3 separate regions of the Homo sapiens genome follow, and regions 1 and 3 are each linked to region 2. Evidence: fine-mapped expression QTL. A gene starts in region 2. Each other region holds a variant in brackets. All regions are shown on one strand. Distances are between the middles of the regions.

Evidence for each region.
Region 1: its variant is fine-mapped to the expression of CFAP46 in cerebellar hemisphere (GTEx, PIP 0.95).
Region 3: its variant is fine-mapped to the expression of CFAP46 in cerebellum (GTEx, PIP above 0.99). The same link has a PIP of 0.9 or more in cerebellar hemisphere.

What each region holds. Positions count from the first base shown.
Region 1 is chr10:132,800,229-132,802,980 of GRCh38, forward strand. No RefSeq gene overlaps it. Among named protein-coding and RNA genes, the nearest start is that of NKX6-2, 15 kb to the left of the region's middle. The variant C/T (reference allele first, on the strand shown) is at 1,548.
Region 2 is chr10:132,941,334-132,944,085 of GRCh38, forward strand. CFAP46 (cilia and flagella associated protein 46) reads right to left here and starts at 1,237. Exons shown (of 58, transcript NM_001200049.3): 1 at 1,103-1,237; 2 at 647-771; 3 at 258-389. The coding sequence starts at 1,151. LOC105378572 (a long non-coding RNA gene) reads left to right here and starts at 2,034. Exons shown (of 3, transcript XR_007062348.1): 1 at 2,034-2,752. LINC01166 (long intergenic non-protein coding RNA 1166) reads right to left here. Exons shown (of 2, transcript NR_120627.1): 2 at 2,634-2,752. RefSeq lists enhancers at 550-1,133, 1,134-1,717.
Region 3 is chr10:132,896,297-132,899,048 of GRCh38, forward strand. CFAP46 (cilia and flagella associated protein 46) reads right to left here. Exons shown (of 58, transcript NM_001200049.3): 24 at 2,663-2,752. Among named protein-coding and RNA genes, the nearest start is that of CFAP46, 45 kb to the right of the region's middle. The variant T/C (reference allele first, on the strand shown) is at 1,135.

The DNA.
Region 1 (2,752 bases), 140 kb before region 2:
ATGAAGCCGCGGACCCTCGCGGTGAGTGTTACAGCTCTTAAGGCGGCGTGTCCGGAGTTTGTCCCTTCTGATGTTCAGATGTGTTCGGAGTTTCTTCCTCCCGGTGGGTTCGTGGTCTCGCTGGCTCAGGAGTGAAGCTGCAGATCTTCGCGGTGAGTGTTACAGCTCATAAAGGCAGTGTGGATCCAGAGAGTGAGCAGTAGCAAGATTTATTGCAAAGAGCGAAAGAACAAAGCTTCCACAGTGTGGAAGGGGACCCGAGTGGGTTGCCACTGCTGGCTCGGGCAGCTTGCTTTTATTCTCTTATCTGGCCCCACCCACGTCCTGCTGATTGGTAGAGCCTAATGGTCTGTTTTGACAGGGCACTGATTGGTGTGTTTACAATCCCTGAGCTAGACACAAAGGTTCTGCACGTCCCCACCAGATTAGCTAGATACAGAGTGTGGACACAAATGTTCTCCAAGGCCCCACCAGAGTAGCTAGATACAGAGTGTCCATTGGTGCACTCACAACCCTGAGCTAGACACAGGGTGTTGATTGGTGTGTTTATAAACCTAGCTAGATACAGAGTGCCAATTGGTGTATTTACAATCCCTGAGCTAGACATAAAGGTTCTCCACGTCCCCACCAGACTCAGGAGCCCAGCTGGCTTCACACGGTGGATCCCGCACTGGGGCTGCAGGTGGAGCTGCCTGCCAGTCCCGCGCTGTGCGCCCGCACTCCTCAGCCCTTGGGTGGTCGATGGGACTGGGCGCCCTGGAGCAGGGGGCGGAGCTCGTCGGGGAGGCTCCGGCCGCACAGGAGCCCACGGAGCGGGTGGGAGGCTCAGGCATGGCGGGCTGCAGGTTCCGAGCCCTGCCCCTCGGGAAGGCAGCTAAGGCCCAGCGAGAAATCGAGTGCAGCGCCGGTGGGTGGGCACTGCTGGGGGACCCAGTACACCCTCCGCAGCTGCTGGCCCGGGTGCTAAGCCCCTCATTGCACAGGGCCGGCCGGCTGCTCGGAGTGCGGGGCCCGCCAAGCCCACGCCCACCCGGAAATCCAGCTGGCCCGCAAGCGCCACGCGCAGCCCCGGTTCCCGCTGGCGCCTCTCCCTCCACACCTCCCTACAAGCTGAGGGAGTCGGCTCTGGCCTTGGCCAGCCCAGAAAGGGGCTCCCACAGTGCAGCGGTGGGCTGAAGGGCTCCTCCAGTGCCGCCAAAGTGGGAGCCCAGGCAGAGCAGGCGCCGAGAGCGAGCGAGGGCTGTGAGGACTGCCAGCACGCTGTCACCTCTCATTCGGACATCAGAGACCCTGGACTTGGGGTAGCTGTGCAGGCCCCACGTGGCAGGTGGCTGGGGCTCTCCGAGGTGGGGGCGGGGACATCTGAGATGGGGGTGGGGACGTCTCTCCACCATGGGGATGCAGACACCCCTGCCGGGTTCTTCTTTCCACATTCATGGCTCTGCTATGGCTGGGCCCTTCAGCCTCCCCAGGGAAGCTGTGTAACCAGAACAGAACCCGTGTTTCCTCTTGCTGGGCCATCCCCTCTGCAGCCTTGCTCACGTGGG[C/T]TGGTCCTCTGTCCACAGTCCTCCTCGTTCCTCTCCCCACCGCCTGGCCTCTTGCCTGGGTTGGAATTCCTCGATGAGCAGGACAGAGCAGCCTTGGGAACCACACCTGTCAACCCTGGAAGTGATTATGGGACCATAGCAGCCTGGGGCAGCAGGCCCAGGCCCCACCCTCGAAGCCCATGCAGACCTGCTCTCAAGGACTCTGCCTTGGAGGGGGAAACACGACTCTGGGACCCCTGCCCCCATGCGTGGTCCATATGGTCCTATGGTCCCACCGCGTCCACGGGATCAGGTTCTCTGGTGAGAACTAAACCAGGGGCAATGCTGTTGCTCGCTCATGTTTATGGAGTCCAAGGCGAGCTAGTCAGGACAGGAAGCTTCTGACCCCAAGAGCACTGAGGACCCAGGCTCCTCGCAACTGTGGCTGTGCCATCCTCAACATGTAGATTTCACCTCATAGCACATTATGGCTGCCAAGCTCCAGCCATCAAATTCCATCCCATCCTGCAGACAGGAAGGAAAAAGAGCAAGCCTTTCCTTTTATGGAGGTGTCTTGAACCAGAACTTAGTCAAATGGCCACACGTGTTGCAAGGGAGGCTGGCTGTGCACCTGGCCAGGAATGGGGGGTCTATTTCTTTTCCTTTTTTTTTTTTTTTTTGAGACGGAGTCTCCCTCTGTTGCCAGGCTGGAATGCAGTGGCAAGATCTAGGCTCACTGCAACCTCCACCTCCCAGGTTCCAGCGAGTCTCCTGCCTCAGCTTCTGCAGTAGCTGGGACTACATGTGCATGCCACCATGCCCAGCTGATTTTTGTATTTTTAGTAGAGGCCAGGTTTCACCATGTTGGCCAGGATGGTCTCGATCTCTTGACCTCGTGATCTGCCCACCTCGGCCTCCCAAAGTGCTGGGATTACAGGTGTGAGATTTCTAAGGGACACTGGGAGGCTGGCCGCACACCCGGCCAGGAATTGGGGGTCTGTTACTAAGGGACCCTGGTTCTCTGACTCCCTCCCATTTCTTCAGTCAGCAAGAACGGGGCCCAGGGAGAGAGGCACAGGGTTCTGGGAAGTCTCAGGCCCTGTCCCTGCAGGGCTGGGGCTCAGCGATGCGGAGAAGGGAGGGGAGCGACCCCTACAGCCCAAAGAGCAAAGCTACTTGTGATGGGACCGCTGCCCTCCCTTCTGAGTGAGTCCTGTGGTCTCAAG
Region 2 (2,752 bases):
TCGGGGCAGCTGCAGGCGCAGATGCCACAGAGACCACGCTGCTACGAGGCAAAGGTCCAGGGGTCCTGTGTGTCAGATATCACCACTTGAGCAAAAAGCATGGACAGGAAATGGTGCAAGTTTCGTGTCACTCTGGAAAGGAATTCCTTCACTCTACTACCCTAAGAACGATTTTAAGCCTGGTCTAGCCTGGCATTGCTCTGGAGATGGGGTGAAAATTGAACTGTTGGGGATAAGGGGCACAGGACGCCTCTCACCAGGTTTTCTGCCGACTTCGGGGCACACATCTGGGCCCTGCACAGGTGCGCTCGGCCCAGAAACTGGGTGATGGGCGCCTTCACCTTGAAGTACATTTGGATGCAGTCCTCGCTCACCTCTGGCTGCCTCATCTGCAAGAGAACACCACCACAGAAGATCACAGACCCGGAGGGGTGGCCTCCCTGCCCAGAAGCACCACGGGCCCGCTTTCAGAACAGGCCCCCAGCACAGGTGGAGCCTGTTTCCAGCCCCATCCTCCATCCTGGCCCCTTGACTGCCCGGCCAGGAGCTGCCTCTCCCCAGCCCCACTCTGCATCCGCTGCACACCCAGAGGCCCTCCCTCTCCCTGTCAAAGCTGCCCTGACCGAGGATCCCGGGAACTAGTTACCTTCAGGGCCTGCTCTGCACACAGAACAAACAGGTCTGGGCTGAAGCTCTCTGAGGGGTCAAACTCCGATTTCCCTAGGTTGGCCGATTTGATCAACTCGTAGGCCTTCTTCAAGGACGCAGCATCTGTCCCAAACGGGTGGTTGAGGAAGGTTTGGTCACTGGGCTGGGAGAAGTGAGCCGGGCAACGCCATCCCGAAGGCCCCAGGCAGCCGCCTTGGGCCCCCGGGCCACAGCCACCGTCAGAACCTGTCGCCGCCAGGGAGCAGCGGTGTGGGCGCCTTCCTGTACGTTTGCTCTGGTCAGACGATCGGGAGGTGGGGGCTCCGGCTGTGGCCCTCGAGGGATCACCCATTGGGCGGGCTGGGATGAGAGGGTCCGGGGCCTCCCCGGGGCGGGGGTCGTGGCGGGTCCCGGGGCCTCCCCGGGGCGGGGGTCGTGGCGGGCCTGGGGTCACCTTGCTGGCTCTCGGCGCGGGCCAGCTCCTGCGTGATGACCAGGTCCATGGCGCCGGCGCCCTGCTCGTCCGCTCTCTCCGGGGTCCGCGGTGCGTCCTGCCGCCCACTGTCGGTTGGGTTCTCCAGCCGCGAGGACCCGGCCACGGTTGCCTGGAGACCGAAAGGGACGCGGACGCGGGGCTACGGGTCGGCGGCGGGGCCACACTTCGGGGAAGGCGAACAACGCCGCGCCCCCGCCCTGCCCCCCGCCAGCTCCGCGGGAGTGAGACACCAGGGCAGCGACCCCCGGCGAGGGGCGGGAAGAAGAAAGGGGAGGGAAGGCGGCGTGGGGGGACGCCGGGGGCTCCGCGCGGGCCTCCTCTCCCCGCTCAGGGCTCCTGTGTGCCCGGGTTCTGGTCCTGACCCCGGGCTCACCCTCCACCTTCCCCGGGAACTTCCGACTGCGTCCTTCGCGCCTGCGCTCGTCGGCTCATTCATTCATTCATTCATTCATTCATTCATTCATTCATTCATCCATTCAGTCAGTCAGTCAGTCAGTCAGTCAGTCATTCCTTCATTCTTTCGTTCTTTCATTCATTCCGTCATTACTTTAACAGGCGGTGATTTGCCCCTGCCACGGTGCTGGAAGTGCAGCGGGCACAGAAAGTCGCGCAGTGGAAATGCGGGCTGCGGGCGTGGATGGGGCCGCCGGGTCTGGGGACGAGCTAAGACCTGGCAGCAGGGGGTGGCCGAGGCGGGAGGAGCAGACGCAGAGCCCCGGCCCCCACGGAGAGGGTAGCAGCGCAGCCACCTGCCCCCCGGGGCTCCCCACCTCCCAGCCGGGGCTGCTTTCCGGCCGGGGTCCGGACGGCGCCTACGACCGACCCGAATTGGAGGCTTGGCGGGGCGCGCAGCCCCCGCGCGGGGAAGCCGGAGCCACTGAAGGACTTGGGTCGGCCTGGGGAGGGGAGGGCCCGGGACTCACCCCGGGGTGGGCACACTAGGGGAGCTCTAGGGGAGGCCCACCTGGGGTAGGCCCACCTGGGAGAGGACCCCCTGGGAGAGGCCCACCCACGAGAGTCCCACGTGGGAGAGTGGAATTCCACCCGGGAGAGGCCCACCTGGGAGAGGACCCCCTGAGAGAGGACCGCCTGGGAGAGGCCCACCTGGGAGAGTGGAATTCCACCCGGGAGAGGCCCACCTGGGAGAGGACCCCCTGAGAGAGGACCGCCTGGGAGAGGCCCACCTGGGAGAGTGGAATTCCACCCAGGAGAGGCCCACCTGGGAGAGAACCCCCTGAGAGAGGACCGCCTGGGAGAGGCCCACCTGGGAGAGTGGAATTCCACCCGGGAGAGGCCACCATACCTACATGGGATCAAATAAGCTGCCTGGACATAGTTTTGAAACCTGAACGTCGTATGTTTCTCAGGCTCCTAGAGCCCCACCCCGTCTTGAAGTTGGCAGCCTCAGATCCCTGCTAAATGACCATATTCCTTCCCAAAGACAGTTCTCAGATGGGCCTTTGTTGGTAAAGACACTCCACACATGGGTACAGCCTCGATAAAATATTTATCCCCTCAGAGAAAGTATATCCAAACATAATGTAGTAAGAGATTTCCCAAATCCAAGGGCATTAAATATTAAAACTCAGTTTTCTAGTTACACATTAG
Region 3 (2,752 bases), 45 kb before region 2:
GCCACATGAAGACACAGTGAGAAGGCATCCAGGCATTGATGGCCAGGAAGATGTTCCTCACCAGAACCCAGCCACGCTGGCTCCCTGATCTCAGACTTCCAGATCCAGACTTTGATAAATAAATTAAGCCATCCAGTCTATGGTATTTTGTTATGGCAGCCCAAGCTAAGACAGAAAGCATTCCTGTTTATAACAGCACCTTAAAAAATTAAATACTTAGTAATAAATCTAACCAAAGAGGTGAAAGACTTACATGCTAAAAACTATAAAAGGTTGCTGAAAGAAATTAAAGATCTAAATAAACAAAAAGATAGACCATGTTCATGGATAGGAAGCCTTAACATTGTTAAAATGTCAATACTACCCAAAGCAGTATTCAACGCAATCCCTATGGGTTACAATAGTCTTTTTAAAAATATATATAATTTTAAAAAATGATCCTCACATTCATATGGAATTAAAAAACTGATCCTCAAATTCATATGGAATTGCAAGGGGCCCCAGACAGCTAAAACAATCTTGAAAAAGAACAAAGTTGGAGGACCCACACTTCCCAACTTGGAAACATATGACAAAGCTACAGTGACTCAAATAGCATAGTGTTGGCAAAATGATACCATACAGGCCGGTGAAATAGAATAGAGAGCCCCAAAATAAATCCCTGCATTTCTGGTCAAATTATTTTCAGCAACAGTGCCAAGACCATTCACTAGGGAAAGCACAGTCTCTTCAAGTGGTGCTGGAAAAACTGGATATCCACATGGAAAAGGCTGATGTTGAACCTTTACCTAATACCATATGCAAAACTTAACTCAAATGGATCAAAGATCTAAACTTAAGAGCTAAAGCTACAAAATTCTTAGAAGAAAATAATGGAGAAAATCCTCATGGTATTAGATGTAGCAGGACCAGGGATATGACACCAAAGACACAGGCAACAAAAGAAAAAATAGATAAACTGAACCTCTTAAAAATTAGGAACATTTATGCATCAAATGGCATGATCAAATGAGTGAAAAGTTAACCCAGAGAATGGGAGAAAATACTTGCAAATCAGGTATCTGCTGAGGGATTAATATGCAGGCTCTGTCCTGAGGCTCTCTGGCATGAACCTCCGTCTGCTACGGCCCTCAC[T/C]GTCCGTGGGCTCTCCCTTCACAGGCCCCGCCGCACACCGCAGGTTGGTAGGAACCGCATATCTAGGTCAGCCAGGACTCTTGGTCACAAGCAGTAAAAATCTACTCTGGTCTTCCTGGGCAGCCAGAAAATGTGCTGGGCAGCGCCAGTGGGAGGCTAAGCCCTGGGGCCAGGAAGCTGCATCTGGCCCACAGGATGGCCATGTGTGGGTTGGCAGGTTGGCAGGTTGGCAGGTCGGCAGGCCAGGTGGAGCAGCCTTGGCTTGCCTCCGTACTCTCCAGTCTGGCTCCAGAGGCAGCTCTGCACAGAGCTCAGACCCAGGCTTCCTGGGGGAGCCAGCCGAGGAGGGTCCCTTTGCCTAGACCACACTGGATGAGGAGGCAGTCCCCCGGAGGAGGCCAGCATGGGGAGAGAGGCTGGGGTGGGCTGGACAGCCCAGAGGCCCCGACACAGCCTTTTCAAAGTCAGGCCAAGAAGCTGCCTTGGGCATGCATCTGAGGATCCAGCGCAGCGGCTTCTGTAGCCGCACCCACTGTCTCTGCCTGCTGTCTGGTGCCCCACTCCCGTCCTCCTCCTCCCACTGGAGCTTTGGGTTATGCAGCTCTGCTTCTCTTAGAAGGGCCCCGTTTTGTGGGTTCTCTGTGGCTGACTCCTGATTCCTGGTTACAGCTGAGGCCAGCAGAAGAGAGCTCAGAGTGGGCTGGTCTGGCTCAGCCCTGGTCTGGAGACTGACCCCAACCCGAGAGTCTCAGCCTCTTTCCAGGAGGAGCGGGATGCCTCCCCATCTCCCAGCAGGGAGCTGCATCCACAGACCTGTGAGCCAGGAGCACGAAGCCTTCACCAACTCCAGCGCCTGCTCAGGAAGCCCAGTCCACAAGGCTGAGGCTTGTCCTGCCAGTCTGTGCCCAGCGAGAAGCTGGCCAGGCTCCTGCTCTTGGAGAGGCCTGCAGGACCACTCCAGGACCCATGCCTAGCCTCCCTCCAACAGCCCTAGAAGGAGGTGCACTCTTGGGTCCACTTGGCCCCTCTCCTTCAACCGTCCTCCCTGGGTTGCCCCATCCCCTGGGCCTTGGGGGCTCCACTCCCCGCCACCCCACTCTGCCTTAAGCCGCCAGAGGCACCTGTGGCCCAGCCCCCGCCCCCTGCCCTGCCCTCTGCTTGCTGTTCTCAGGGCCACCCTCTCTCATGGCAGGTGGGGCCTGTCCTCCCTGCCTAGAATCCAAGCCTCTTAAGGCAGGGACTGTGCTGGCCTCACTCTACCCGCTGCTGTGTGTCTCCAGGGCTGAGAGCCCCTCGGTGCATGTGTGTTGCTGGGAGAGGTCAGGTCTGAGCACCGAGTCCAGCAGGGGCCCCCGCAGTGCTGGGACTTGGAGACCCCCCTTAACCCCCTCCCCTCCTCGGCTGGTGCTGGTGCACCCTCTGGGAGGCCTGTGGGGTCTGTCTTTCTTTGGGAGTCTCTCCGGTCCTTTCTGGAAGACCCACTAGAGGCCTCAGTGGGAGTCAGGAGCCCCCTCCAGGGCTGGTGCACCTGCTTTCTGGCCTCTGTCTTGTTGATGATGCCGATGAGCCTCTTCAGGGCACCCTTGGCCTTCTTCCTGTAGACGGCTGAGGACAGCAG